Linked DNA regions of Homo sapiens: region 1 is linked to region 2. The links come from fine-mapping of genetic effects on plasma protein levels. Region 2 holds a variant in brackets. A gene starts in the other region. All regions are shown on one strand. Distances are from middle to middle.

Region 1 (16,366 bases), 78 Mb before region 2:
CTTATTTATTCCAGAGCTTTGCCTTTGGATATAAATACATTCGTATGCCAGAGATGATTCGAAATATTGGTATAGGTATTAAGAATTTGAATATTGTAAATGATATTGCAGCAAATCCGTTTTCAAGTCTAGTGATTTCCATTTATTTCCTTTCATCAGCTTTGAGGGAGCACCCGATTAAGTTGTCAAGTCTGACTAAATTTTGATAGTAAATCACTATATAATTTGGGGCATATAACTTGGAAGGACTTCAAGGAATTGAGACATTGCTATAATAAAACTTCTAATTCCATTTACTTATTCATATGAATGAAGTTTCTCAATGTTTAAATCCTTGAAAATGAAATATGGGAATAATATTGATGCCAAACTTGTCTAATTTTGTTGATAAGTAATATTCATTCATGGATATATGAACAAATGAGGGAAAGCTCCTCCTGTCTTAGAGATGAATCTTTAATAGCAATTTAAATATAAAGGTTTAAGTTACTTGTCAAAACTTGCAGTATATTTACTTTATTTAATTGTGTACTGAAAGTAGTTGTCATGCTAACTCAATAGAAAAGAAAAACATTTTAACACATAGAGACTTACAGTTGTAGAAAATTGAAATTTTATATTTTTATTTTGCAAAGAAGTATAATAATCAAGAAAATACTTTAAGCTTAAAATGTGTAATCTTAGGCTAAATACTGTAGAAGTGGGATAGAAATAACTATTCAAGGAGAGAAAAATGAATAATATAAAATTTCTTAAGAGCCTGCTTGTGGTCTTTTAAGTGATGAGGATTGCAGATCATGCTAGTACTTTATTCCATTGGATAAACTTTAAGAAATTATGTAACAATTTTATTTTTACAGTCTAATTTTTGTAATACACTGGAAAATCCAATCTTCTTTTGCTTTTAAAATTTGGGATAAAAAATTGTAGCTTTCCACTTAGAAAGGTGTAAGAGGTAACATAGTGTTCCAGGATATTTTTGGAGGTATAGGAGCAAAAATATTGCTGCTGAAGAGCACAACTCTGCAGCCTTCATGAAGGGGACCTGAGTGCTTGCCTTTGAACCTGGGCTTTGCTCTATTCAGACAGATTGCAGAAGGAGTGCAACGATTTTAAATTTAGTGGTACTCTTCCTGTGGAAGTGGTTTTCTCCCTGAACAGAGTATTTCTAGGGATTTCCCTGGCTTTGGGGCCAGCTCACAAGAGTGTGTAGGGCGAAGGAGTCGGTGAGGCTCCCAGTCTCCCATCACAGTGGCCAACCCTACCCACTGTTTCCTGCTTTGACTTGTTTGTTTAAACTTTTAAATAAGATTTGGTTTAAACAAAATTTCCAAAAAGAGATGTTTCCCATTTTAACCTGTTTGTTTGTTTGTTTGAACTTTTTTTAAGCAAAATTTCATCAGCAAATTCTCTACCACACAAGATAAAACAAAGTGAGAGAGAGCGAGACAACTTGTTTTAAACATTTGAAGGTTTTAGAGGACTGGTACAGTGCTTTTGATGAAGGCACAACATCTAAGAAAGGAAAATGCAAGTCAGTGTGCATCCCCTGCTTTAATCTGACATACTTTTCTGTTTCTATGCATCACCAAATACCAAGATTCACCTCTTACAGGTTATTTCAGAGCTATAGGAGAACATAAAGGTCACTTCCAAGCCAACTTAGCATTTATCTGCTGTTCTGCAGGAAGTCTTTCAGACTTCGAATGCCTAAGATGGGGCAGCCACCACTCCCCACCACTGAGACTCAGTGAGCGTAAATGATTTGCCCAAGCTTGCTCACATGAATGTGCATAGGGTTAACACAGTTATTCTTATTCTTCCAGGGCTTATGAATTTTGAAAATCTGATAAAAGCCGTGGTCAGATTTCTTCAAAACAAATGCATGCTTGCAGTAGTTTAGAGAATCTCAGATGGTTCATGACCTACTAAGTCTGTCCATGTTTAATGTGGCCCAAGTTCAAGATTCTGTGTTAACTGTAAGGCAACTGATAGGGATTTTGTGTGGAGGTATGGAGAATGGATGATGTTTAAAAATCTTCTTTGAGTAACAGTTTTCCTCTGAAACCTGCTTGGGGTGGGCAGGCCTTCTCATACCTGCTCCTACTCTGCATTATAGTCTGCAGGATGCTGCTCTGTCCTGTGTTACTAAGCAAGTTAAATACTAAAACAAGAGGAAATTCCTCTCTAGAAGCATCCACATGCTCTGCTAGTCTTTAATGTTCTCTGGAAGGCTGGTTCAACTGGAAGTTGCTGGAAAGGAGTCAGAGACTGGGTCATTAGAATAACATCCTGTGCCTGTGTAAGCCTTCATTAAGTACCATGATTATCTTTAATTTTACTTTAATAAAGAACTGGGCTGGTGCAGTGGCTCATGCCTCTAATCCCAGCACTTTGGGAGGCCAAGGTGGGCAGATCACTTGAGGTCAGGAGTTCGAGAACAGCCTGGCAACATGGTAAAACCTCGTCTCTACTAAAAATGCAAAAATTAGCCAGGCATAGTGGCACATGTCTGTAGTCCCAGCTACTTGGGAGGCTGAGGCAGGAGAATCGCTTGAACCCAGAAGGCAGAGGTGGCAGTGAGCCGAGACACTCCAGCCTTGGCAACAGAGTGAGACTCTTTCTCAAAAAACAAAACAAACAAACAAGCAAAAAAACTAATAATGATTGCAGGGTGAAGAGAAAAGCAGAGAGAAAGTGGAAGAAGCAAATGCCTTGACCTAACTTTTCACACAAGGAGGTACCAGAGGCTAGTAGGTGTCCCATGGCTTGCCACGTTCCAGGTGGCTTACAAAGTTGGCAAGAATAGTGCCACAGAAAGGAGATCTTGTTCTTTTTGTCTACATTGTAGACCACAGCTTTGTGCTTTTAGAAAGGCGGAATCAAACAATGTCCCTCCCTTGACCCTTTGTCCTCCTGCCCACATCTGCCTGTTTCTCTCCTTCCTCTTATAGCTAAACTTTCTTAACTTCCTTGCCTCCCCCTTACTCTCCAGCCCACTGCCCGACCATCCTATCAAAGTGTCCCTGCAAACTTCATTGCTGACATCCTCATTACCAAACCAAATGAAGACTTTCCACCCTTATCTTCCTTGACCTTTCTGTAGCAGTAAATACCACTACTTCCTTTTGCCTAAAATGCTTCCCTTAGCTCTTCTGTTGTTCTTCTGCTCTAATGTTTGAGAAACTTTTCTGAGTCTTCTTCTGAATCTACCTCAATCCTCTGCCTTCCCTTGCAGAGGTAAGTGTTTCTCTAGGTTCCCACCTCCATGGCCCTATTCTCTTCTCATTCTTCTGCTTTCCTGGGAAGTAAAGATGACCTCCTTATGGTCATCTGTTTCCAATGTCCTCTAATCAGCATCTCCGTTTCTGAATATTCTCTTGAGCAGGAGGTCCACAATTTAAATGCGCAACAAACATGTGAGCATACAGCTGAGGAAGCTACTGACAGAGGCTTCTCAAGGGCAAGGACTATTACTTACTCAGGTCTGAATCCCCAGCCATGGTAGGGCACATACTCAATACTCAATAAACATTTTATGGATAAATATATGAATGAATAATGGCAGAGGAATAACTGAAAGTAAGACAAAAATATGCTAAATAAGAAAATGTTGGAAAAATACATAATAATTATAACTGAATGCATTACTTTTACAGTAGTGATAATAGCTAAGTGAACAAATAAAATGGTGAAAACAGACATAATTCCAGTCCTCATAGAATGCACATTCTATTGGTAGAGAAGACAATGAAACAAATACTAATAACTACACAACAGTACTAAACAAGTAAACATGAAAAATATTAACAGAATATAGCCATAAGTGCTAGGTAGGAAATGAAACTTATGTGATAGAATGACTGTGTCACTATGTTGGTCAGGAACGTCAGGGAAGACCTCTTTAATGAGATAATGTTTAAGTGGAGAGAAGAATGACTGCAAGAAACCAGCCAGTGAGAAGCAGGAAGAAGAGCATTAAAGGAAGAAGAAAAAGCTATTTCAAAGGCCTTAAGGTGGAAGCAAACTGCAGTGTGTTCAAAGAACATGAAGACATTAGTGTGGCCAGAATGGAATGAGCAATGGAGAGAAAAATACGAGCCGGGGGTAGTGACAGATCACATCGGGCTTTGGGATCCAAAACAAGGGGATGAGATTTTATTCTAAGTGCAATGATAAGCCAACGGAAGCTGGGCACGGTGGCTCACATCTGTAATCCCAACACTTTATGAGGCCAAGGCAGGCAGATCCCTTGAGGTCAGAAGTTCAAGACCAGCCTTGCCAACATGGCGAAACCAACTCCACTAAAAAATACAAAAATTAGCTGGGCATGGTGGCGCATGCCTGTAATCCCAGCTACTCAGAAGGCTGAGACAGGAGAATCGCTTGAACCCAGGAGACAGAGGTTGCAGTGAGCTGAGATGGCACTACTGCACTCCAGCCTGCTGAAGATTGGGAGATCCTAGAGGTTAACTGAAAAGGTAGTTTGAGACCATATCTTGTGGGTCACAAATACCAGTTGGCAGAAGGGATACTTCTGAACAGAGAAGTATCATGAACACATGCACTTAATGGTGGTATGATTTTTTTTGTGGGGCTGGGGGACAGGGTCTTGCTCTGTTGCCCAGGCTGAAGTGCAGTGGCATGATCTGGGTTCACTGAAACCTCCACCTCCTGGCCTCAAGTGATCTTCCCATCTCAGCCTCCTGAGTAACTGGGACTACAGGCATGCATCACCACACCCGGCTAATTTTTTGTAGAGATAAGTTCTCACTATATTGCCCAGGCTGGCCTGGAGCCCCTGGGCTCAAGCAATACTTTTTCTTTGGCCTCCAAAAATGCTGATATTATAGGGGTGAGAGTAGTGCGATACTTTTTTTTTTTTAAATGAGTTACAATCAGGGAGATTGCACTGCAAAAGAAGAGGCTATTGCAATGGTCCCAGTGAGAGTTAAAGAGGGACAGGTTTGGTCTGGCATCAGTGGGAATGCAAATAGGGGAGGTGAATATGAGAGTTGTTGAGGATGCAGAACTATACAACTTGTTGGTAGCAAAGCCCAGATGTTACAAGCTATTACAGCTAATACATTAGTTCCCTTATGTTTCTGGACGGTGGTGGTGTTAGTGGTGTGGCACAGATATTGGTAGCCCAGCTTAGGGGTGGAAAAAGAAATACAGTGAGAAAAGAGGTTGTCTCTAAGCCAAAGAGCAAATTATGAATATAGACAAGAAGGGACCCAGGACATCAACACTTAGAATCCAAGCATATATTTAATTTAGACTACCAATTGCCATTATTTTGAGTAAAATATTAGCATTAAAAATAAAGTACGACACTTAAAATTTTTTAAAAAGTCTATTGGATCAGAGATGAGTTATATCTCTACAAATAGTGAGGATTTGCTCTGTATTTGACTTCATGAAGTTTCTGATTTACTTTTTAATCAAAAAGATTAGACACCTTGAAGACAATATAATGAATGTCATTTATAAAACCACTGTGTGCCTACTCTCTAGGTTTAGGTCCAGGGTTTTTTCTAAACACAGTTTTTTATGTAGTAAGTCATTTTGATTTTTGAGGATTTGATCAATAAGCTTCTACTTAAAGATCTCTGAAGATGCACATTCTAAGAGCTGGTGGCTAGCCCAGGAGAGTCTGAACTATTTTAGTTGCATTTTGAAAAACAGGTAATGAAAAGAAGAGTAAGGACTGGAAGCCACATAAGGTGGTTAAAAGGTATAAATGGACGAAAATCCAGACCTGCTCCTTAGCCCACTAAAACTTTTTTTTTGTTTTGTTTTTGAGACAAGTCTTGCTCTGTCACCCAGGCTGGAGTTCAGTGGTGTGATCTCAACTCACTGCCACCTCCACCTCCTGGGTTCAAGAGTTTGTCCTGCCTCAGCCTCCTGAGTAGCTGGGATTACAGGCACATGCCAACATGCCCAGCCAGTTTTTGTAAGTTTAGTAAATATGGTGTTTCACCATGTTGGCCAGGCTGCTCTTGAACTCTCGACTTCAAGTGATCTATGCGCCTCGGCCTCCCAAAGTGCTGGGATTACAGGCATGAGCCACTGAGCCCGGCCATAGCCCGCTAAAACTTTGACAAACATCAGTGCAATTTAACTATAAGTTCCCAATCAAGAGCTACTCCTCTGAGATCTATCTGATTGAAAATACCCCACCAGAAAAACCTTATCCTCATTTTCTCAGGTCCTAAAAGTTAATTAAAGCCACTCTCTGAACTTGAAGCAAAATTTACACAGGCAGTTTGAGGTTTCTGAATCTTTGGGGCCAAATGTGCTCAGAGGAAAAGGAAGAGGTCTTGTCTTTGAAATATTAAAAACCATTCCAGGGCTGGGGCCTTAGCACTTCGCTGTAGAGCTCAAGCCTAATTTCAGGGTACCAAGAGAGGGGCTTCTGAACATAAAGCCCAGGAGGCAATCGAGAAGGGTTCTTACCCTGGGATCCACATGGAGGTCTGGGAACCTCCTGTGGTTGTCTCTAAAGGTTGGTGTTTATGTCGATGTTTTTGCTTTCATCTGGGAAAGACAAGTTGTAACTTTCATCAAAATCTCAAAGAACTCTCTGATCCAATAAGTTCATACCTTTGAAATAGAGGAGGATGCCAAGGAGAGTAGAAGGAAGAGAGGAATAACTGCTCATTTAAGTTAACCAATTCAGAAGTATGACATGCAAAAAGACAGGACAAAAGTAATTCATATCCTTAGGTCATTGTGGTTCAAACTTAAGACAGGCTCAAACTCCTTCCTCTTCTCTTTATCATACTCTTATTCCTGTTTTCCCCAACACAGAAACCCACATTATAAGTACTTGAAAAGTGTGCTATAGTAAAGCAAAGCAGTAGGATGAATCAGGTGTATGCGGTACTTTTTTCTGGAGTCCCACAGAAAGGTGCTCAAAAACAGAGACCTGCCTGGTTCCTCCATAGCCACAGACTGCAGGATTTCGGACCCTGGGACTATGTGGGATACTCTTGGAAAGTCTGAGGAAAATTGGAAGTAGCTTAACCATGTGCATTTTATCTAGGTGCATATAACATTGCTGAGTTCAAAATGCCTAGCTATCCTTGGATCTTCCCTGAATTAGAAGTAGCCTAACCACGTGCATCTTATCCATGAGCATATAACATTGCTGAGTTCAAAATGCCTAGCTATCCTTGGATCTTCCCTGAATCCTAAACCCCACTATTCCTAAGAATTTTCTTTTTATTGTAACAATAATGGCTAACATTTACTAATCACTTACTATGTGTCAGGCTCAGATCTGGATGCTTTTCAGCAAAATCTTATTTAATCCTCATGATGAAACTATAGAGTATTATTACTATATCCATTTTATAGAAGAAGAAACTGAGTCATTAACAAGATTGAGTCTTAGGGCAGAAAAGGAAACTATGTGGATATTCCAGATCAGTCCCAGAAGATTCATAGGCTCACAGAAAGAAATGGGAGGGATGGGGATGAGAAACTATTCAATTGTAAGCTTGTCCCAGGGCACCTACCCAGTCTTCCATTTATTCCATCATTTATCCCAGAGAGAAGTACAGTCTTGGAAAATGGGGTGACAGGTTTACCATGATCTATTCTCAGAGAGCCCCTATAAATTCTAGTAGGAGGAACAGCAGCTGCGGAGCCAGAGGACAGGCCCCAGATCCCAACATCATGTAGCCTAACAGTGAAGCTTAGATAAAACACAGCCTCTGTAAACCACGATGGCTTTATTTGTAAAATAGAAATAGCAACCTCAACTCACAAGGGTGTTGGGAGGGTCAAAGTGGACAGCAAGTTTAAAAGTACTCACAAAATCTAATAGGCAATTCAACATAAAACTCCATGGCTATCGCTGTTCCTCACTTTCTGAACCTTTACCTGCCTGACTTTACTCCATACCACTCCAACTCACTTCAACCACTTCCCATGCAGAAAAAAATAAACTCACCATCTCCTCTGTGACTCTGCTGGTTTTCTGCCTTCTGCCCAACCCAGACTGCTTACAGTCTCACTGCCTCCCCTCAGTGTCAGGCTGTTTAGAAAAACAACTTCCTATTCACATTCCAGAAACTCACCACAGCCCTTCCCATGAAGTTAGAATGTTGATAATGCAAGAGTAATGTTGGCAGCTTAGAAATAGTGGTTGCCAAGAGGCAAGGGGTCACCCCCTTCCATGGAAGATGGTCTGGAGGCAGGCGCAAGGTGAATTACTCCTGGATATCCCAGGCTGAGCAATGTGGGAACAGTACACACACAAAGGTTTCCTTGGATTATGATATAAGCTCCAATTTAAAGTAGTACATTTGGAAAACATGCTTTGAATTAATTACAATGTGATTTTCCAGTGCCCATTTTCCAGTAATTATGACATGTCAGTGAATGTTTACTATTCCGGCAGCCTTCTGAGGGAAAGAAGCAAAATTAGTAGCACAAAAAAAAATAGAGAGAAATGGAAAAAGCCACTAACAGTTTTCTGGCGCTTGGGAAATTTTATTGGTAAGTTTCAAAATGACGTATTAAATAGACATAGGTCATGTGAAAGGAATTCTGCTTCTTATATCAGAAATAAAAAGGTATACAAATAGATACCTTTTTATTTTCCTCTTCCCATGGGATGTGTAGGACCAAAAAGCTGTTGGCATAGTGGTTAAGACTTCAGCTGTGCTGTTAAACTGCCCGAGACCCATCCTGGCTCCTCTTCTGGCTATCTACTGGGCAAACTACTTAAGCTCTCTATGCCTCTGTTTCCTCAACTGTAAAACAGAATAACAGAACTTGCCTCACCGGGTTGTTGTAGGATGAAATGAGTTAATATGTACAGAGTGATTGAAATGACACTTGGCCCACAATTGATGCTCAACAAATGTTAGTGATTATTATTACTTTTCAGATTGATCTCAGACAGCAAAATCAAGTATCAAGTATTTAGTTTCAAGTCAGAAAGCCATAACTCCTATTTATACTCTTGGAATTCTATTGTACAGTAGTAGGTATTATTCTTCATTCACTTCATGATGGTTACAGCTTGTAAATAGGCATCTCATGGATAAATTTAAAATGGAATGAAGTAGAAACATTGGAAGAAAGTCTAAAGGTAAAGATGAATTAGGGTATATAAGGCTGCATTTGCACGTTGGAATTTGGGACCAAGAAGAAAAAATTAATTATATAGTAGAAGTAGAAAAGATGGTGAAGGAAATGCTGTTGAAGGAATGACTGTAGGGGAATAAGGGAAACTTAGAGAGAGGAAAAAATGAGGAACTTCTTGGCAGCATGATGCAGTTCAGAGTCCAGACCCTAGAGTCAGACTGCCTGGCTCCACCACCTACCAGCTGTGTTGGGCGTTACTAATCTCCCTATAACTCAGTTTCCTCAGTGATGTGGTTTGGCTGTGTCCCCACCCAAATCTCATCTGGAATTGTAGCTCCCATAATTCCCACAGGTTGTGGGAGGCACCTGGTAGATCATTGAATCATGGGGGTGGTTTCCCCCATACTGTTCTCATGGTAGTGAATAAGTCGCATGAGAGCTGATGGTTTTATAAGGGGAAACCCCTTTTGTTTGGTTCTCATTTCTCTCTCTTCCCTGCTGCCATGTAAGACGTGTCTTTTGCTTTCTACCATGATTGTGAGGACTCCCCATCCACGTGGAACTGTGAGTCCATTAAACCTTTTTTTTTTTAATAAGTTATCCAGTCTCGGGTATGTCTCTATCAGCATCATGAGAACAGAATAATACACTCAGCAATGTGAATAATAAGGATAATAATCACCAAATACATAGACATGTAAGGACCATTAAATGAATTTAATGTGTTTGGAACAATACCTATCACGCTGTTAAGTGTAAGTTTAAGTGTTGGCTATTATTCTATAAGACTTGCCTCCATGTCTTTCTGTTCTTACTTTCACTCACCAGCCCCTCTTTTTGGCATTGCCTCATGTTAGAAAAAATATATATAGTCTCAGATGGGGATGAGGAAGTGTGGTATGTAGACTAGTAGGTTCTTTTTTTGAGACAGGGTCTCACTCTGCGGCCCAGGCTGGAGTGCAGTGGCATGATTACTGCTTGCTCCAGCCTTGACCTCCTGGGCTCAAGCAATTCTCCCACCTCAGCCTCCTGAGTAGCTGGGACTATAGATGTGTGCCATCACTACTGGCTAATTAAAAAAAAAAATCTCTAGAGATAGGGTCTCTCTATATTTCCCAGGCTGGTCTTGAATTCCTGGGCTCAAGTGATCCTTTCACCTCAGCCTCCCAAAATGTTGGGATTACAGGCATGAGCCACCATGCCCAGCCTGGTAGTTTCTTATTTATAATAAGTTTGATATTAATAAGTTCAATTGATCATATGTTTTTAAGTTTGATATTGTTAAATTTTAGTGAATATAAGGAAAGCATAAAAAGATTCCTATGCAGGTGACATTAGCAAGATGGTGGAGTAGGAGATGTCAGCCTTATGCCCCAACAAAAAAACAAACATAGACAGTTATACACAAACCAAAATAGCCCTCACAAGGGTGGGGAGTTGGGGGATGGGGCTCAAGAGCCTGTTAAAGAATTTGGAACAACACAATGGAGAAAAGAAAGAATATCCATGTAGAAGAATCACCGGTGAGACTGGCATATATGAGACACCAGGAGATAGCTACGAATAAAGAAATTTGTAGGCTATCTGTGTCAGTCATGTGACACAGAGCCACTGAGGCCCCCAGTGTCCTGCTCCACAGAGGACACTGGCATCTTTTATCCAACAGCCATTCCCATAGCAGGATGCTAAAAAGGGAAACACAGTTGCACTACCCCTCACACCCCCTCACCAAGAAGCAGCTATTGTTGCACTGCCCCAGGACTGGGGCCAGGGTTACCACCTCTCACAAGTCTATGTGTGTTCCTGATCCCCAAAAGTTGTGGCTGCTCTACAGATATTCACACTCTGGACTGTGGCTCTGTGGCTGCAGTGCACCTCCTCATGTCTCAGACACTGGAGTCACTGCTGTTGTGAACTAGATCTCACCCTGGGACCCCAAGCCAAGTTCTCTCTGTGAAAGTCTTTGCTCCAGACACTAGTTCAGCCACTGTAGAAAGGTAACCCATATTCTCAACTCCAGAGCTGCTGTAGTAATGTGCACACCTGCGCTCCAGACCCTGTCTCTGAGGCTGTACTACACACACCCACACCTCCAACACCAGAGCCACCACTATAGTGAGCTAGTGAACACCCTGGGTCCTAGAGTCAAGGTTTCTCTGTGCCTGTCCATGCTCTAGTCACCAGCTCAGCCACCAAGGAGAGCTAGCCCACACCCTGGATCCTGGAGCCACTGTAGCTCTGCGTATGCATGCAGTAAAGTCCCTGGCTCCTTAGCTGCTTTATAAGTACCTGCATTTTACACACCATTATCAATGTGATAGTAAGTATGCCTGTGCCTTGGGCACTGGTACCATTGCTACAATTGAATCTGGTGCTGTGGTCCCTCCATGCATGCCCATGCTTCAGGCCTTGGCTCTTGGCCACTCCATGGGCACTGTTCATCAGACACCAGTGTCACCACCACCAGGAGCAGGCCTGCAAGTTAGACCTAATTCCAAGAGGGATGTCCTCAGTCATGACTTCCCAGGTGGGGAAAAAAAGAGATATGGAGGACTTGTCACAATTGAAAACCTCAACAGCCTCATTGCCACTGTAGATACCCACAGTGTTGGCCTCTAAGGATCCCTGTAGTATTCACTAACACCAACCTCAGCTGACAGATCTGCATGGAGACCACACAGCTTTGCCCCTACTGAAGTCAGAACTTTTGCATCCCACCCAGCCAGCATCCTCGCATTATTCCACATAAGAAGGTATTTCTCCACCAAAGTCAGCCCATACAGCCTGAAATTGGGGCAGATCCACCAGATGCTCAGACAGCAGTGTAAGGCAGCAAGAAACATGAAAACCCAAATTAAAATATCACCACCTAAGAAACACAATAATTTCCCAGTAGCTGACCCAAAAGAAATGGAGTACTACAAATGGCCTGACAATGGATTCAAGATAATTGTTTTTAAAGAAGCTCAGTTACTTTGAAGCAAACACAGAGAAACAATTTGGTGAAATCAGAGAAACAATAAATGCACAACATAAGAAATGTAACAGAAAGATTGAAATCATAAAAGAAATTGGAGCTGAAAAATATAATGAATGAAGTGAGAAATGCAGTAGAAATCACCAGTAGCAGACTTGATCAAGCAGAAGAAAGAATCTGTGAACTGAAGACAGGTTTTTGAAAATATACAGTGAGAGGAGAAAAAAGAATGAAAAGAAATGATGAAAGCCTACAAGATTTATGGGACAGCATCAAGAGAGCTAACATTCAGCCAGACTCAGTGGCTCATGCCATAATCCCAGCGCTTTGGGAGGCCAAGGTGAGTGGATCACCTGAGGTCAGGAGTCAAGACCAGCCTGACCAACATGGTGAAACCCAGTCTCTACTAAAAATACAAAAAAATTAGCCAGGGATTGTGGCACATGCCTGTAATCCCAGCTACTGGGGAGACTGAGGCAGCAGAATCTCTTCAACCTAGAAGGCAAAGGTTGCAGTGAGCTGAGATCATGCCACTGCACTCCAGCCTGGGTGACAGAGTGAGACTGCATCTCAAAAAATAAAAACAAAAATTAAATTAAAAATTAAAAAAGAGAGCTAATGTTCACATTACAGTAGTTTAAGAAGGAGAAAATAGAGGAAAAGGGGGTCAGAAAGCATATTTAAAGATTGCTAGCTGAAAATTTCCCAAATCTGAAATAAAATATTAATATTCAGGTACAGGAAGCTTAAAAATCTCCAGTCAGGTTCAATCCAAAAAAGACTACACCAAGACATAATAATCAAACTATCAAAAATCAAAGACAAAGACAGGATCCTAAAATCAGCAAGAGAAAAGAAGCATATCACAGACAAGAATTGCAATAAGGCTATCACAAGATTTCTCAGCAGAATGCTTCTAGGCCCAGAGAGAGTGAGATGATATATTCAAAGTGTTGAAAGAGAAAAAACTGCCAACCAAGAGTCCCATCCTTCAGAAATAAAGAAGAGATAAAGACTTTCCCAAACAAATAAAAGCTGAGGTAGTTCATCAACACGAGACCTGCCTTACAAGAAATGTTAAAGGGAATTCTTCAAGCTGAAAGAAAGGGATGTTAATTAATTACATGAAAATCTACGAAAGTATAAAAGTCACAGGTAAAAATAAAAATACAGTCAAATTCAGAATTTTCCAATATTATAATTGTGCTGTATAAATCACTTATATCTTTAGAATGAAGGTTAAAAGACAAAACTATTAAAAATAATTATAACCACAATAAGTTAACAGATACACAATATAAAAGATGTAAATTATAACATCAAAAGCATAAAGTCTGAAAAATATTAAAAACCTATAAAATGTGGAGGGAGAGTAAAAGTGTGGAGTTTTTTTATCCTTGAAGTTAAATTTTATCAGCTTAAAATAGCCTGTTATAACTATTATATGTTTTATCTAAGTCTCACAGTAACTACAAAGCAACAACATCACATTAAAAGGATTATTCACCATGATCATGTGTAATTTACCCCTGGGATGCAAGGATGGTTCAACATAAGAAAATCTATAAATGTGATACACACATTAGCAGAATGAAGGACAAAAGCCATATAATCATCTCAATATATGCAGAAAAAGCATTTGACAAATTTTACCATAATTTTATGATAACAATTGGTAAAGAAGGAATAGTGCCCTCAGGCAATAGGAAGGAATAATACCCTCAGGTGTGGAAAGAAAGTAACTTCAACAAAATAAAGGCCATATACATAAGCCCACAGCTAACATTATAGTCAATAGTGAAAGGTTGAAAGCTTTTCCTGTAAGATCAGGAGCAAGGCAAGGATATTCACTTTTGCCACTTCTATGCAGCACAGTACTGGAAATCCAAGCCAGAGTAATTGGGCAAGAGAAAGAAATAAAAGACATCCAAATCACAAGAACTTGTCTATGATTTCAGACAACATGATCTTATATATAGAAAACCCTAAAACATGATCTTATATGTAGAAAACCCTAAAGACTTCATAAAAAAAAACTTTTAGAACTAATAAATGAATTTAGTATAGTTACAGGATACAAAATCAACATGCAAAAATCAGCAGTGTTTCTCATACACTAACAACAAACTATCTGAAAAAGAAATTAAGAAAATAATCTCATTATACCAGCTACAAAAAAACACACTTAGGAATAAATTTAACCAAAAAGATAAAAGATCTATATACTGAAAACCATGAAACAAATTGAAGAAGACAAAGGAATTGAAAGATATCCCATATTTATGAATTTGAAAAATTAATATTGTTAAAATGTCTATACTACCCAAAGCAGTCTGCAGATTCAATGTAATTCCTATCAAAATTTCAATGGCATTTTTCAGAGAAATAAAAAATAACAATCTTGAAATTCATATAGAACCACAAAAAAATCCTGAATAGCCAAAGCAATCTTAAGCAAAAAGAACAAAGCTAGAAGCAGCACACTGCCTGATTTCAAAATATACTACAAAGCTATAGTAATTCAAACAGCATACTGGCATAAAAATAGATACTTAGACCAATGAAACATAGTAGAAAGATAAGGAATAGATTCATGCATTTACAGTCAATTGATTTTTGATAAAGATGCCAAGAACATTCAATGGTGAAAGGAGGGTCTCTTTAATAAATGATATTGGGAAAACTGGATATCTATATAAAGAAGCTTGAAATTGGATTCTTGTCTCACATACATAAATCAAAGGAAAATGGATTAAAGACTTAAATATAAGTCCTGAAACTATAAAACGATTAGAAGAAAACACACATAAAAAGCTCCATGACAGCTTGCAGTGAGCCGAGATCACGCCACTGCACTCCAGCCTGGGCGACAGAGCAAGACTCCGTCTCAAAAAAAAAAAAAAAAAAAAAGCTCCATGACATTAATCTTGGCAACGACTTTGTATATGACCACAAAAGCACAGGCAACAAAAGCAAAAATAAACAAATGGGATAACTTCAAACTAAAAAGCTTTTTCCAAAGCAAAGGAAACAATTGACAGAGTGAAGAGACAACCTATGGAGCTGAAGAAAATATTTACAAACCATGTATCTGATAGAAGATTAATATGCAAAATATGTAAGAAACTCAATTGCAAAATGCACACACACACTCGCGTACACACACACACACACACATATAACTCAATTTAAAAATGGGCAAAGAACCTGAATAGACATTTCTCCAAATAAGACATATAAATGGCCAACAGGTATATTTAAAATATTTGACTAATCATCAGGGAAATGCAAATTACAACCACAATGAGATATTACCTCATACCTGTTAGAATGACTACTATAAAAAAGATGAAAGGCTGGGTGCAGCGGCTTATGCCTGTAATCCCAGCACTTTGGGAGGCCGAGGCTGGCGGATCACGAGGTCAGGAGATTGAGACCATCCTGGCTAACGCAGTGAAACCACGTCTCTATTAAAAATACAAAAAAATTAGCCACGCGTGGCGGAGGGTGCCTGTAGTCCCAGCTACTCAGGAGGCTGAGGCAGGAGAATGGCGTGAACCTGGGAGGCAGAGCTTGCAGCTTGCAGTGAGTCAAAATTGCACCACTGTACTCCAGACTGGGTGACAGAGCGAGACTCTGTCTCAAAAAAAAAAATAAAAAGATGAAAGATAACAAGTGTTGGTAAGGATGCAAAGAAAAGGGACCACTGCACACTGTTGCTGGGAATGCGAATTGGTAGAGCCATTATGGAAAATGGTATGGAGTTTCCTCCATATGACACAATCCCACCACTGGGTATGTAGCCAAAAAAAAAAAATGAAATCAGTATGTCAAAGAAATGCTAAACTCCCATGTTTTTTGCAGCATTATTCACAATAGCCAAAATATGAAATGAACCTAGGTGTCTGTCAATGGACAAACGGCTTTCAAAAAAAAGTGGTATATACACACAATGAAATACTACTGAGTCTTTAAAAAGAAGGGAATCCTTGGCTCAGCACTGTGGCTCACGCCTGTAATGCCAGCACTTTGGGAGGCCGAGGCGGGCGGATCATCTGAGGTCAGGAGTTTGAGACCAGCCTGACCAACATGGAGAAACCCCGTCTCTACTAAAAATACAAAATTTTCCAGGCGTGGTGGCACATGCCTGTAATCCCAGCTACTCAGGAAGGCTGAGGCGGGAGAATCACTTGAACTCGGGAGGTGCAGGTTGCGGTGAGCCAAGATCGCGCCATTGCACTCTAGCCTGTGCAACAAGAGTGAAACTCCGTCTCAAAAAAAAAAAAA
Region 2 (16,366 bases):
TTCCAGTCTCCAGAACTGTGAGAAAATACATTTCTGTTGCCCGCCACCACCCAGTTTGTGGTGTTTTGTTATGATATCTCGACCTGCCTAATACAGATGGCTAATGCAAAGCTCCAGTGCAACACTTTAGAAAACGAACCCTGTTGTACACCTGACCTCCTCCAGCTGCAGTCTCCTCTTCTCAGTTGATGACAACTGAGAACTCTATTCTTCCATTTGCTTAGTCCAGAAGCTTGGAGTCCATGTGGTTCCAAACCCATGGCACCGTATGCCAATCACTGAAATGATGAGTTTTGTGGCAGAGAATGAGTTTATTTATGAGGGAGTCAAGTGAGAAAGCAGGAGAACAGGTCTCAAATCAGTCTCCCTGAAAATGGGATTTTAGGGATATTTATGGGATAGAGGAGTGAGGTGGTCCAAGGTGTAGGAAAATGTGATTGGGGTAGGAAAAAATGAGGTAATCAGTAATCTGCTCAAATATAGTCAAACTTCATGGCTCTTCATAGCACACATGTTCACAAAATGGTGTCATTAACATGATCTGAGGGTGGAGTTTTGGGCACTGTGACATCTAAAGGTCACCCATTGGATATTCACGCAGGTCCAGTTGGGGACCAGTGGTTTCAGCTAGCTTGAACTGGACAAGAGTTGACCCTCGTTCCTGAAAAGAACTTAAGCAATCGTTACCACAGTGATCTATACATGAGAGATGTTATCTCTGAGGAAACTGGTGGCAGTTTTATTTTTTTTTATTATATATTGCTTAGCTACGTGACCTTTAGCTATGAAAATCTTAAAATAAACTAGAAACAAGTGACCGACTAAAAGCAAGCGACTAAAGCCAGTGAGGCAAGTTAAGTCTGGGCCTAATCAGGGGAGCCCTCGGCCTCAAACATTGACCCCTCTCATTTCCACGACCTCTGTTCCTCACATATAATCTGTCAGCAAATCCTTTTGACTCTATTTTTAAAGATATCCAGATTACAATCATTTTTACAACGAATCACCCTGTCTCAGCTAGATTACTTGTATTAAAATCACAACGATTTTACTTGAAAACGCTTCACTGACTTCCTACCTGACTCTGTAAATACCCCATGTTGTTTCATAATCCATGAGTATCTACTGTCTGCGCCTTCCCCCTCCACACACATTACCTCTCTGATCCCACTTCCCACCACTTCTCCCATTCCTCCCTCTACTGTAGCCTCACAGGCTTCCTCGCTCCTCAAAAACGCCAGGCTCTCACTTGCCATGCTGCTTTTAGCTCTGCTGGTTCCTCTGCCTAGAATAGTCTCTCTCTCTCTCTCTTTTTGATACAGAGTCTCGCACTGTTGCCTGGGCTGAAGTGCAGTGGCCCAATCTCAGCTTACTGCAACCTCTGCCTCCCGGGATTACAGGCATGTGCTACCACGCCTGGGTAATTTTTTGTATTTTTAGTAGAGATGGGGTTTCACCATGTTGGCCAGGCTGGTCTCGAACTCCTGACTTCATCATCCACCTGCCTAAGCCTCCCAAAGTGCTGGGATTATAGGCTTGAGCCACCACGCCCAGCCAGTTTCCATCTCTTAACAAGTGCTTGGCTGAGGCCTCACATCTGTCCTTAACCTTCACCTCAGAGGCATTTTCCCTGATGGTGTTACTTCGAATTGTCAAACTTATCCTTTTCCCACTTCTGCTCTATTTCTCTCCGGAGCACTGTTCAGCACGTATTGAAGCATTCTACATGCTTATTTTTACTTATGTGTCTTGTTCTGTCAGAATAGAAGCTCATGAAGGCAGTGGTGTCTACTTTGTTTCTTCTGCATCCCCAGTTTCCGAGCATGGGCACGAAGATGCAGCTTAATAAAGGAGTGCTGATGTGTGAGCAGATGTATGAACTGAAGGTGGGGGCAGTGACCACTGTGGGGATGCAAGAGCAAGTGGGGGAGGGAGGCCTTACTTTATTGCAAACGAGCAAGCTTTCTGCAACGCGTCAGAAGGATTAGAAAGGATAAGACTGCACTCCGGGTTTTGCAGTTTCTCTTTTCTTTTCAATTCACGTAGAATACAATCACTCCACTACCAAATATTTGTCATTCATGCATTTCCTAAACTGTAACCACCTGCAAGGAAAAAAACTCAAGAGCCTTTGAGAAAGTTGTAATGTCTTGCATATCCTCATTTTTATATGTTCTCTATTTCTGTTTAGAAGGCATTGAGTTACTGAGTATTAAAAATAAAAGAAACTGCTGAAAAGAATTTTTTTCAAAAATGACACAAATATTCTTTTAAGTGACAGTTACACTACTCAAGCCTTTTATTTTTTCATCCAGACATTTCTTTACCCATTTGGTCATAGTTTTGTCTAAACCTATGCTGGTTTAAATTATAAATCCTGTGACTATTTTCTTGCAAAAGCTTTTTCAATTTTTTTTTTCCTATTGAAGCTATTAAAACAACAAGGAAATGCCTCTTGCTAGTTAGAGCAATGCATTGCTTATAATTAATGTCTTTTGGCAATTTCCCAGCAACTGAGCTTCTCAGAACTCAAGTTTCCATGGTATATCCTTGAGCAAAGCAGTAGGTTTGGCCTCCCATGTCATATGGATCACAGTTGGTGGGGTAGAATATTGAGAACTAATTCAGCTATTCATTATATGTCGGTATTTTCCGCACGGTCTCATCATGGCCTATATGGAGTACTCAGTCTCATCCCCAAATGGCTGAAACTGGGGTGCAGATGGAACCAAGGTGGAGCCCAAATAAAAAATCAGGTCTCCTGCACACAGAAAATGAATGGTGTTTTCAAATCAAACTACAAGTCAAAAAACACACAGACACTCCAAATTTGAGATGTTGGCCTGAAACCCGGCTGCTTCTTGAAATAGAAAAACCCTTAGGTGAGCAGTAATAGGGATTTCTATTTTTAAGAATGGCAGAGGACTCCTAGAAAAGATGGATAGAAAAACCTGGCTGAGCACAGTGGCTCACATCTGTAATCTCAGCACTTTGGGAAGCTGAGGTGGGCGGATCACTTGAGGTCAGGAGTTTGAGACTAGCCTGCCCAACATGGTGAAAACCTGTCTCTACAAAAAACACAAAAATTAGCCAGGCATGGTGGTGCGTGCCTGTAGTCCCAGCTACTCAGGAGGCTGAGGAGGGAGAATCGCTTGAACCCAGGAGGCAGAGGTTACAGTGAGCCGAGATTGTTCCACTGCAGTCCAGCCTGGGCAACAGAGTGAGACTCTGTCTCAAAAAAAAAGAAAAAAAAAAAAGGAAAAAGAAAAGATGAATAGACAAACTAATAACTAATAAATATGCTTTTTGTGTTTTCATACCGCAACTAATTTATTTTAGAAAAAATGCAAGCCAAGCTGGGCATTGTGGTGCATACCTGTAGTCCCAGCTACTGGGGAGGCTGAGGCAGGAGGATCATTTGAGCCCAGGAGTTCTAAGCTTTAGCATGCTCTGATCATGCCTGGGAATAGCCAGTTCATCTCAGCCAGGGCTACACAGTGAGACCTTGTCTTTTAAAAAAAGGAAGAAAGAAGTAAAAAGCAAAGAAAATGAAAGAAAATGTATGCCAGTATGATATTTTCAATGCAAAGTAACTCCTTGTAGAATACTGGTGGTCCAAGGAGCAGCATATGGAAAAGGTGGAAGGAAATAATTGCACAGAAAATCCCAAAGTGGATCATTCAGTTCTTGTAGGTATATTTTGTTCTAGACTTTGCATTTTTAAATGTACTTTGAGTGTCCAAATACCTCAAATAGAAGAGCGAATTGCTCTCTAGGTTTTGGGTTTATGCAAACCTGAAATTTTCAGTATCAATAAAATCTTTAAATTTTACTTGCTACATACTTCATGAAGGGAGATGTTGCTTGACATTTTAATTTTACCTAAACTAAGCCTGAAACAGGTTATTTTTTAAACTACAGTATCTAGTCACCCCTGTGATGTGAAAGCTCCTCTTCTACAAAGAATGTCATGAATTTAGCAAACAAGGGCTTCTAATTTAATGACTATTTGACTAGAATTATTAAAATTCTACTTAGTCCAAAATAAAATTACCAAGAAGAATATGTAAAATACGTAGGAAATAAAAAATAGAATTTGCCCCAGATAATCAGTGGAGGAGTAATTGTCTACAGTTAGTTGGCAGCAAGCTGCATGAGACCTGGTAGAAGACAGAGGATCTGTGTAGAGCTGTAGACCAGAATAATATGAGGAAGCACATATTCTGCAACCAAATATCTGTCCTTAGCTTCCCTAACTGCAGGATCTAATCAACAGCGGAGTCAGCAGGGAGCACCAAGCTGGCCTTACTCAGTCTCAGGGCTAGAATCAGTGCCCTTGAAAACAAGGCTAAAGAAATGCCCATCGTTTGGATATAATATAAGTAATTGTCTCTAGTACAGTATGTCTTTCAATTGGAAGCATAAGAACAAGATGTTCAAAGTTGTTATTAAGCATGTGTCAAAGCATTAGTTATTGATATATTAGTATTTATTGTTATGGTAGCCCCCCTTATCAGTTACCCACAGTGTACTACAATAAGGTATTTTGAGAGAGACAGAACACACATTCAAATAGCTTTTATTACAGTATATTGTTATAATTGTTCTATTTTTTATTATTAATCTCTTGCTGTGCCTAATTTATGAATTAAACTTTATCATAAGTATGTATAGGAAAAACATAGTATATACAGGGTTCCGTAGTATCCACGGTTTCAGGCATCCACTGAACTGGGAGGGTCTTGGAAATTATCCCCCATGGATAAGGCGGAACACTGTATTATAGTAATTATCGTGGACAAAGCAGAAAGTCAAAAGAGCTGGTTCTAAAAGCATTTGAATAATAGGGACTTATATGGAGTTACTCCAGAAACAAATACCCAAACTAAGATTACTAAATTATATATGAATTTATTTAACTTTCTACTTAAAATAAATCAAAACTACTTGCTTCTCTACCAGCCATAAGTTATTGGTAGTAACTTATCAATTTCTGCAGGTTAACCTCTAATCTTATTAAAAAAATTTTTTTAGAGACAGAGTCTCACTCTGTCACCCAGGCTGGAGTGCAGTGGCATGATCATAGCTCACTGCAGCTTCAAACTCCTGGGCTCAAGGGATCCTCTAATATCAGTCTCTGGAGTAGCTGGGACTGACTACAAGTGTGCGTCACCCTGGTTTAACTTCTAATTTTATGTGAACAAGAGAACCTTTATAAGTTGCTAATTCTTATGTCAAACAATTAAAACAATGGGCACCAGAGCATTGAAAAACAAGCTGAGTTGATCACTGATAAAGGATAGGACCACATGTCACTAAAAGAAACACACCAAGCAGGCTGCTGAATGAAAACTTCATGTGAGGTTGTAGAGAGAGAGCTCATGATGGCTGTGCTGATGAAAGGTCGAAATTTTGCATGCTTGGAAGGACAGAATTAGGCCACAGATCTGTAGACAGCTTGTTAAACCGAATTGTATCATTCATCAGTCAGGAAAACATTTTTAGTTAGGTCCTGATTCTAAAAGAGTTGGTAAATAAGACCTCTCCAAGTTTTTCAACACTATTAGCTTTGGGTTTTATATCCTTCGAAGTTTCTGTTCATATAACAGCTTCTGCCCGGCAGCTGCACGTAGGGAAACACAACTCTCAGCTGTGATATATTCAGGCAAGTGGTGTCATAAAGAGAAACCTTCCATTTAGATTTGCAAATATATTGTGACCACAAAGGTACATTCCCCACAAGTTCCACATGAGGATCAATTAGGCTAATGAGAAAATTCTTGTCTGGGCAGGGTGGCTCACACGTATAATCCCAGCACTTTGAGAGGTGGGTGGATCGCTTGAGCCCAGGAGTTCAAGACAACATGGCAAACATGGAAACATGGACAACAGGGCAAAACGCTGTCTCTACCAAAAAAAACAAAAACAATAATTATCTGGGCATGGTGGCATGCCCTGTAGTCCCAGCTACTCGGGAGCCCAAGGCAGGAGAATCACTTGAGCCTGGGAGGTTGAAGCTGCAGTGAGCAAAGATCACACGCTGCACTCCAGCCTGGGCAACAGAGCAGGACCTGTCTTAAAACAAAAACAAAACAAAACAAAAACAAAAAAGAACTTTTTTTAGTATGAAATAATAACAACAAATAACCAAGCAATCTTCATTTTGCCTTTTACCAAATTTGAGGTAATTTTTTTCTATCATACAACAAATACAACAAGATTTAAATGTAGTCAAGCAATGACATTGAAAACATTTGAAGCCAAATATCCCATTTGGTGAAATGCTAGCTTTTTCATTGGTTAATTCTCATCTTATTGGTCATTCCTTAAAAATGAAATAATTGAGTCAGATTTGAGAGTTTGTTTCTCTACCCTGTACTTAGGTAAGGAATTGGTTTTGGTTCCAATATTATCTGCAAATGAGCAGGGACTCGCTGTCAACAGGTATGCCCTGTTTCAGTGCACGTGCTTGGTCTGGCCCCATGCCTTGCAGGACTGACTGAGACAAGATCTCCTACTCCTCTGGTGGGCAACTCCTGTTGTAGATTTAATATTACAAATATGTACAATTTTTTATATAGGCAAATTTGCCAGCTAGTATTAACAATTATAAGCACTGTCAATAATACTGTCAGGATTTATTTGTAAGAATATTAACTGTAGCATTATTGCAACAGAAAAACTGGACATAACAACAAAAAAAGAACTGGTTGAAAACTATCATTATGATGATTATGCAAAGGGGTACTTTGCACCCATTAGTAATGATGTTAAGAAAATGTATTTAATCATAGTCATCCTAACAGGTATGAGAGCCCTCATCGTGGTTTTGATTCATATTTCCCTAATAATTAGTGATGTTGAGTATCTTTTCAAAGACCTCTTGGCCATTTGTATGTCTTCTTTGGAGAGGTGTCTATTCAGTACCTTTGCCCATTTTCAAAATTGGGTTATGTTTGTTTATTTAGTTATTTTTGCTATTGAGCTGTGTGAGTTCCTTAAATTTTTTGGTAATTAACCCCTTATTAAATATACGGTTTGCAAATATTTTCTCCCACTCCATAGGTTGCCTTTTCATTCTCATTGTTACAGCATAGTATCTCTAGTTAAACATAAGGTATTGTGTACTTAACAATTCGTCAAGAGTGTAGATCTCATGTTAATTGTTCTTACTACAAAAAGAAAAAAGAAAAAATCACGAAGAGCTACAAGGAAACTGTCGGAGATGATAGATATCTTTATTACCTTGACTGTGGTGATGGTAGCATAAATGTACGCATATGTCCAAACTCATCAAATTATGTACATTAATTATATTCACGTTCTTTTATATCAATATATCAACAAAGCTAGGAAAGAAAGAAATAAATTTTTGTTTGTTCGTTTTGTTTTGTTTTGTCTAATGATGGGACGGTTTCGCTCTGTTGCTCAGGCTGATGTGCAGTAGCTATTCACGGGCATGATCATTGCACACTACAGCTTCGAACTCCTGGGCTCAAGCAATCCTCCTGCTTCAGCCTCCCAAGTGGATGGGACTACAGGCACATGCTACCACACCTGGCTGAGAAAATGGTCTTTATTTTTTATTTATTTTTATTTTTTTGAGACGAGTCTCGCTCTGTCACCCAGGCTGGAGTGCAGTGGCGCGATCTCGGCTCACTGCAAACTCCGCCTTCCGGGTTCACGCCATTCTCCTGCCTCAGCCTCCCGAGTAGCTGGGACTACAGGTGCCCGCCACCACGCCTGGCTCATTTTTTGTATTTTTTTTAGTGGAGACAGGGTTTCACTGTGTTAGCCAGGATGGTCTCAATTTCCTGACCTCATGATCCACCCGCCTCGGCCTGCCAAAGTGCTGGGATGACAGGTGTGAGCCACCGCGCCCGGCTGAAAATGGTCTTTAAAACTGTATTTTATGGCATGATAACACTTATGTGCAAAGGATGATCCTATTTTTGGAAACTTTTAAATCAATGGGTGCATGTTTGTTTTCACAAAGCAAGGATGATAAATGTGTGCACCAGAATTCACAAGGGGGCTGGATGTGGTGGCTCAAGCCTGTAATCCCAGCACTTTGGGAGGCCAAGGCAGGAGGATCGCTTCAACTCAGGAGTTTGAGACCAGCCTGGGCAACGTAACAAGACCTTTTCTCTACTAAAATTAAAAAAAAAAAAAAAAAAGATTAGCCTAGTGTGATGGCACACACCTGTGTTCCCAGCTACTTGGGGGATGAGGAGGGAGGATCGCTTGAGTCTGGGAGGTACAGGCTGCAGCTGAGCCCTGATCATGCCATTGTACTCCAGCCTGGGCAACAGAACAAGACCCTGTCTCAAAGACAAAAACAAACAAACAAAAAAGCACAAGAAGGTAGTTGAGGGTAGTAGGATTCTGGGTTATTTAAATATTTTATTTTTTCTTATTTGTACTTAATTTTCTACATGGCATTGAGAACTTAAATCAAGTTGAATATTGTGCATGTCTTTGTTCTCAAACAGCAGCCATGGCCATAATAATGGCAGGATACCTACGGCTTACTGAGACTCCCTTTCACGTAGCTCCTATCCATTCTGCAGATGGAGAACGTGAGTTCCAGGAGATTTGTTTACCAGACCAATTTATGCTAGGATGGGACAGAATGGGAGTTAGAGGTGCTGAAAAGATGGAAACCTTTCGTGTTACCACATTTCTGTCATTCGGTGACTAAAAACTAACATGGAGCTACTTACTTGAGCATTTGAGGATTAATGAGCTTATTTGTGAGTAATCAGATAAGAGAAACAAAGATTTATTTCAGTAGCTCTCAAATTTTAGTAGGGAACAGGAGGAATCCACCCCTGAGAGTTTCTGATTCAGCAGGTTTTAGGTGGATCTTGAGAGTTTGCATTTCTAATAAGTTCTCAGAGATGCCGGTGTTTCTGGTCAAGGACAGCAATGGCGGAACACGCTTCTTAGTGCCTTTACCGCTCCATGGATTGGCTGGAGTGGCATCACCTGGGAACTTGTTAGAAAGGCAAAATATTGATCCCAGTTTGAAAGAGTCAGAATCTGCATTTTAACAGGATCCTCGGGTGATTTGCTTACATGAGAAAGTTTGGGAAGCAGCACTTTGGTACATAGGTTGTCACATACGAATTAGATAAATCATAAATCTGAAATGGGGTGTGTGACATTCCTGCTTGTAATATATTTTTCTCATGTTTATAATCGATAAATAAACAATACAAAACTTATAAATAATGATAAAGCACTCCAGACTCCTGAGTTCTGCTGCTGGTTAACAGTCAATTAAACTTCCTCAGTCCTGATTTCCTCATTGGGAGAAAAAAAGAGTTGGAATAGGTGAGCATATAGTTTCTGATTTCAGCAAATAGATTTTGTGTTGGTTGGAAGCTGAAGAAAATCAACCACCTGTGGTATAAATCCTTCGGCAGGAGACATCATGAATAAGCGATTTCAGTCTCCTGACAGCCACGGCTCAGAGTCAGCTGTTAGCTGATCTCCTGCCGCTGATATTGTGGCCTCGAAATTATCACTAGAACCAGCTTGTGCTTTGTGGCTCTGGTGGGCAGCCTAGGGGAGGAAGTGGGGGACCAGATGCTGGCAACAGGTCTTCCAGGCCCTGCATTTTCCCCATTGTCATGTTAGTCTTTGAGCTGACAACCAGAACAATGGCTTCTTAACCTACCCCAAATAATTTTGATAACCTTCTATTCTCATCCTTTTTTTTCCTTTTTCTTTCCCATCTTGTCTTTGAAAGTATCAGACCTCTGAGGAAAGGCTATTGACATTTGATCTGATTATCGTTGCTAGAGCCACAAAGAGAAATTTTATTTCTAACGTTGTTTTTTTCTTTTCCCCAAGAAGAGGCTTTCTCTTTGTATGTTTGGAAGAGGACAACATATTTGGAATCTTGAGATCTCAGATCTCTGTAATGAGCAGTTTGCCTAAGAAATCATGAATCCAGATTAATCACTTTTATTCCAGCAAAAATGCAACTCTCTTATTGCATTGTGTAATCTTATTATTATGCTCACTTCGGAGGAATAGGGAAGTCCTTACCTTGTTTCGTCTTGCAATACTAGAATTTCCTTGAAAGCAAAGTGAACCTGGAGTGATAGATTCACTTTCATGTTTCAGCCTGATTTTTTCCCACTGTATGCCCACGCGTGTGTGTATGAGTGTGTGTGTGTGCGTGCAGGCACACACACGCACACTCACATTTTCCTTTC[T/C]GCCTCCCCTTTCGAGCTCTTCCTGCCTTCTCTATCATGCGCAGGCCCCTGGCAGCTCGTGGTTGGCAAGAGCACGAACCCGTGGTCAGATGCAACGTCCTGCCTCATGCATTTTCCTCTTGGTGCTTTGGTCAGAACTTCCCCAAGTGGAGTGAAACTCAGGAGCTGAGAAACCGAGTCACTGTGAAAAGATGGGAAATTATCTCCTGCGAAAACTCAGGTGAGTCTTGACTCTTGGTGCCGCCTTTCTTGGGAGAAAGAGAACAGAGATAAGGAGGCTGGACATAACGCATTTGTAATGGTGAGGTACATTGTGCTTCTAGAAGGTTAAGCCTGAAGACAGCATCCTCTAGGAGCACACAGTGACGCCCAGTTGGCTCCTTCTCTTGCCTTACTCTGGAACAATGATAGGTTGCCAGATGTAGAAAACAAAAATACTGGATGCTAAGTCACATTCAAATTCCAGAAAAACATTTTTTTTTTTAGTATGAATGTGCCTCATATAATATTTTGGGCATTATAACATGGGTTGTACTTTACTAAAAAGTTATTCATTGTTTATCTGAAATTCAAATTTAGCAGTGCATCTTGTATTTCATCTGGCAACCCTACACAATTGTCACTTGAATTTTCCTGCTTCTCTTTTTCTTCATGTGGGTGTAGAGCTTAACTTTCCATCCATCAGCTTCGTGGGTTGGTATGAGAATGAACAGTTAGGTCCTTGCAAATTATGGATGCGGGATATGCATTTGAATGCCTTTGACTTTAGTCACACCTTTTTTGGTAATGTTTAGCCTTACACTCTTCCAATACTTCATAATTTATAGAATGTGTACAGATAACAGGCATTATTGTTCTTACATCTTGCTTAATCTTAAATGATGGGCTCTACAGCATCCCACTCCTCTGTCCGCTCTCCCAGTCCCCTTCCAGACAATCTTGCATATGACGTGACTACATTGATAGACCCAAGGCAAAACTCTCATCATATCGCTCCTGTGCTCCAGTGGGTACCATGTAGAAATATGACTGGACAAAAAGGGTATGACCTAACGCTAATAGACGGAGTGGAAAATCCCAGCAAGTCTTGTTCTGTCTGTTTAGATTCTTCTTGACCTCTCTGTGCAGCGTTCCTTACTTACGGGTATGGGGCAGAGGACTCTCTGGAATGGGGGCTTATGACCTACAGTCAAACAAAGTAGGTCAGAGAAGCTGTCTTTATGAGGCAGCAGATTGGCTTCCCCACACCTGATGGTTCATACCGTCTCCTTTCACCAGGTTAAATAGTTCAGCTGTCCCTTGATGTCTTCATTTAGTCTTTCAGTAAATTGCTATTTGTTAAAGAGCTTAAGGGTGGCTGGGCACGGTGGCTCATGTCTGTAATCCCAGCACTTTGGGAGGCCGAGGCGGGTGGATCACGAGGTCAGGAGATCGAGACCATTCTGGCTAACACGGTGAAACTCCGTCTCTACTAAAAATACAAACAATTAGCCGGGCGTGGTGGTGGGCACCTGTAATCCCAGCTACTCGGCAGGCTGGGGCAGGAGAATGGCGTGAACCCGGGAGGCGGAGCTTGCAGTGAGCCGAGATCCCGCCACTGCACTCCAGCCTGGGCGACAGAGCAAGACTCTGTCTCAAATAAACAAACAAACAAAAAAAAATGCTTAAGGGTTCATGGATGGAGAAGGGCCATCAAAGTTCAGGATGAGCATGAGTCTGGGCAGTAGATGGAGGACAAATGACACAATTGTGCTGAGAGGTAAATTCAATTATTTACCCTAAAGAAAAAATGTTTCCCTTCTTTTAAAGTTAAGCAATATTTATGGAAAGCCTAGGTAAGACAATGGTCTTGGTCGCAAGAAAAAATTAAACATGGAAGGAAAATGGATATGGAAGCAAATTTTAAAAATGGATAGGCCCCTTCAGAGAACATCGTACTTAATCACTCTGACTCAGCTTTAAAAAAATAGACATTACGTGGCTCAGATAATTAAAATTGAGAGAGAATTAAAACTTGTCAAGGTTGCCTTTGCTATAAAATTATGAATCTTACATGTAATTTATGATGTCAAGTCATCCGTCATTTCCATTACACCACAATGGCTTCTTTTTAAGATAAGGCAGGTGCTAATGTGTTCTAGGCAGAAGCACAAACAGCGCACTGTAGAAATAAAAGGAAGGAAGGAAGGGAATTCTGGTTTGGGATAGCAGGAAGGAAGGACATGCTTGAGGAATTGCCATTTGGATTGTGCTGTAAATGTTAGGCAGACTTACAAAGCAGGAAAAGATGGTCCAAGCTGAAGGGACAACCTGTGAAAATGTATGAGTTTCAAGTGTATGGTATTACTGTCAATAATTGGAGCATATTGTTCAGAGATGACTCCAGTAGCAGAAGAAGTTGAGAATGAAGCTGGGGGTCTGATAATGAAGGGCCTTCAAAGGCACGTAGAAAGTGGTAAGCAGTGAACATTTATAAGCTGGAGAAAAATGCAATGTGGCATGTATTTTAGGAAGAAATGTCTATGCTCAGTGAGTATGGAGGAATGACACAGAGAGAAATAGACAATAAGCTCTTAAAATATACCAAAGAAGATGCAGGGGCAAAAGGAAAACTTCCCCTTTGCTCCCTGAAGGTTCTCTGAAATCAGCTGAGAAAAGGCAGATTAATAGGACAAAAGGCAAATTTATTGATCATCGTTTTATGTGACACAGGAACCTCAGAATGAAGACCCAAAGATGCAAAGGAAACTGTCCATTTCTATGCTTAGGTTCAACAAATTTTGGATAGCCATGTGGAAATATGATTGGACAAAAAGGATATGACCTAATGCTAATAGACAGAGTGGAAAATCCCAGCAAGTCTTGTTCTGTCTGTTTAGATTCTTCTCGACCTCTCTGTACAGCATTCCTTACTTATGAGTATGGGGCAGAACACTCTCTGGAATGGGGGCTTATGACCTACAGTCAGACAAAGTAGGTCAGATAATGTCTTTATGGCTGGTTCTTACACAGAAAGATACAGGGAAAGTTAGAGTCATCTTACTAATTTTATGGCTGGCTTTGGGGAAAAGAGGTTCTGGTTTCTATCAATCACCTTGGGGAAGAGGGATTCTAATTTCTATGGCTAGCCCTGGGTAGGAAAGAGTTGTCACAGAGAGGAGGGCAGGAGAAAGAGAGCTGCTTCTGAGGCTTTTATTTTGGAGTATCATTTTCTGAGCCCCAACAAAGAGATGGTAAAGAGCTGAAATTCATCAGGAACAACCAAAATGAAGAGGAAATTCAGTGAAAGTAAATGCATTCCCAAGGAGTCACCTTGGTGTGTGTCAGTCATTGGGATCACAGATGTGGTGTGAGAGAAGGCTGGAGAATGGCCTCTAGAACACGGATGCAGAGAGCCTCCTGTTGCTCTGACCCTGCTTGTCAGAGGCCTGTTACCTTGGGCAGTGCCTAATTTGCAGCCTGATAATTGGCTGCAGATGAGTCTGGGGAAGGTAGCTGCTGCTTTCTAGCCCCTGACTAGCAAGAGGGTGAAGTAAATGTAGACATCGCCCATGGGCAGTGTCCATCACATACCCTCTTTAGTCTTTATTTCAAAATTGATTTAGTTCTTTGAAGACTTTATCCTCCCATATAAATTTGTACACAAATTCTGAATTTGTGTATTATATAAAAAGTGCCAGCTTGAATTTGGATTCAGACAACATTGTGAATATAGAGATCTATTTGCAAATTCTTCTATGTTTATGCAGATGTACTATATGTATATATATTTTGAGATGGAGTCTTGCTCTGTCACCCAGGCTGGAGGGCAGTGGCATGATCTCGGCTCACTGCAACCTCCACCTTCCAGGTTCAAGCGATTCTTCTGCCTCAGCCTACCGAGTAGCTGGGACTACAGGCACGCACCACCATGCCCGTCTAAGTTTTGTATTTTTAGTGGAGACGGGGTTTCACCATATTGGCCAGGCTGGTCTTGAACTCCTGACCTTGTGATCTACCTGCCTCGGCCTCCTAAAGTGCTGGGATTACAGGCGTGAGCCACTGCGCCTGGTCTATGCAGATATACTATTAATACACCAATCAAAACAATTATTTATAATTATCTTTATTCAAATCTTCTTTAATGCATTCTGATAGAGCTTTAATTTTTTGTTTTTATTTTATTCTTTGTTAGATAGATTTCTAGATACCATATGCAACAGTAATAAATCTATGAATGACATTTTTTCCTAGCCTGTTATTGTTGGAATGCTATTGAATTTTGCAAGATGACTTTGTATCCACTAGCCTTGTTGAATTTCTCATTTTTTTTCATGGTTTTTTAATCCTACTGGGTTTACATAGTTAATATATCATCTATAAAGTTAAAGATTTTTCTATTCTTTTTTTGTTCCTTACAAGTCTTATAGGTACCTTTATCATGTTTTATAGCATAGTTATGTCAGAATTCTTAGGCATCATTTTCTTGTAACTGATCATAATAATTTTTTTCTAAATTGTTTTCATCAAGGTTGCTGTATATTTTTGACATTTATATTTGGCATTTATGTTTTTGGCATATTGCCTCTATCAAAATAAGGAGATTCTACTTTTTAAAAAAATATGTAGAGATGAGATTTCACTATGTTGCCCGGTCTGGAGTGCAGTGGCTATTCACAGATGCAATCAGAGTGCACTACAGCTTTGAACTCCTGGCCTCAAGTGATCTTCCTGCCTCAGCCTCCCAAGGAGCTGGGATTACAGGCCTGCACCACTGCACCCAGCTCTTCTGAGGGTTTTTATTGTTAATAAGGACCAAACATTATCAAATGCAGTTTTAAACTATTGAGATAACCTCATGATTCTTCTCTTAGGCTTCTAAAGTAGTTAATTATGTTAATAAATATTTTTGCTAATTACCTATCTTTTAATTTCTGGGATAAAACCCATTTGATTGTGATGTGTGCAATTTTACTATAGTTTTAGATTTAGTTAACTTATATTTTATTGAGGATTATTGCATCTATTTTCATGATCGAGTTGGACCTGTGATTTTTAAAAATTTGATTTATTTAATTTGAAATGAAAGTTTACCAATCTCATTAAATGGGTTGGCATCATTTTACATTTCTCTACTTTCTGGAACATCTTATATATGAGAGAGTATATTTGTCACTTGAAGTTTGGTAAATTGTGTACGCAGCTGTGTAAGCTGGATTTTTTTGTTATTGATGTTATTCATGTGTCAGTTTTTATATTTCATTTTTTCCAAGATATTATTCATTTTAAGCCATAATGTTTATTATACATAATTCTTCATCATGCCTGTTTTATGTCTGTAATACTTATTTTGAACTTTCTGTTTTCATTATATTTTTGTCTCCATTCCTTATTTCTTTAGTTGGTCTTTCCAGACTTTTGCTATCTTACTGATATTATTCTTTTCTAAGATTTGGTTCCCTATCATATTTATTTTTACCCACAACTTTCTTGTTTCCTTTTTCTTCTCCCAACTTCTTAAGATAAATGCTTACTTTGTCATTATTAGTCATTTATGTTTTCTTATGAATGTATTTTAGCAAGCTATTTTCTTCACACTTCACTTTATCCTTCAAATAGTCTTGTGTAGCTTGCATTATTATTTTATTCTGTGTTTTTAGAAAGTTCCTTTATGATTCCCTCTTTAACATAAGGATTATTTAGAATATTACTTGTGCCTAGACAGGTACACTTTTGGTTATAGCTTATTGGGTTTTAATTTTACTGCTTGATAGTTGGAGAAATCATGTGCAAATTGTTGATTTTGGGGGATGTTTACTAAGACTTTCTTTGTAGAGTTATGAAGTCATAAGTCAACATCCAACATTTAGAAAGTTTAAAAATAAGAAGAAAAAACACAGAAGGTATAAAAAATTATTCATAATCTTAATTCTTTGGCCAAGATACATCTAAAGCTTAATAAAATACCTATTTTTGAAAACAATAGAGTATTAGTTGATTTATTAATTTGGTCAACAAATTTTTGTACATCACCTATGGCCTGATATTATCTGAATTCCTCTGGATTAAGAAAAACACTTTTTACTTTATTCACAGTAGAATTTAGTATCCAGTTATATTCAGTAATATTAATGGTGTGGAATTCCAATTAGGTCCCTACT

Which allele goes with the higher level. Positions count from the first base shown, and alleles are read on the strand shown. Strength reflects both the effect of a copy and how common the allele is.
For the plasma level of the protein whose gene starts at base 8,013 in region 1, allele C in region 2 goes with a lower level than allele T (weak association).

The links. PIP is the posterior inclusion probability: the model's chance that the variant is causal. The UK Biobank Pharma Proteomics Project read protein levels with antibody pairs (Olink). The fine-mapping took linkage between variants from a reference panel, not from the people measured, so its PIPs are less certain.
Region 1: SELP starts here. The variant in region 2 is fine-mapped to the plasma level of the SELP protein (UK Biobank, PIP above 0.99).

What each region holds. Positions count from the first base shown.
Region 1 is chr1:169,622,112-169,638,477 of GRCh38, forward strand. It overlaps SELP (selectin P), which reads right to left and starts at 8,013. Exons shown (of 17, transcript NM_003005.4): 1 at 7,961-8,013. The coding sequence starts at 7,963.
Region 2 is chr1:247,538,775-247,555,140 of GRCh38, forward strand. It overlaps GCSAML (germinal center associated signaling and motility like), which reads left to right and starts at 10,360. Exons shown (of 5, transcript NM_145278.5): 1 at 10,360-10,446. The coding sequence starts at 10,418. The variant T/C (reference allele first, on the strand shown) is at 10,227.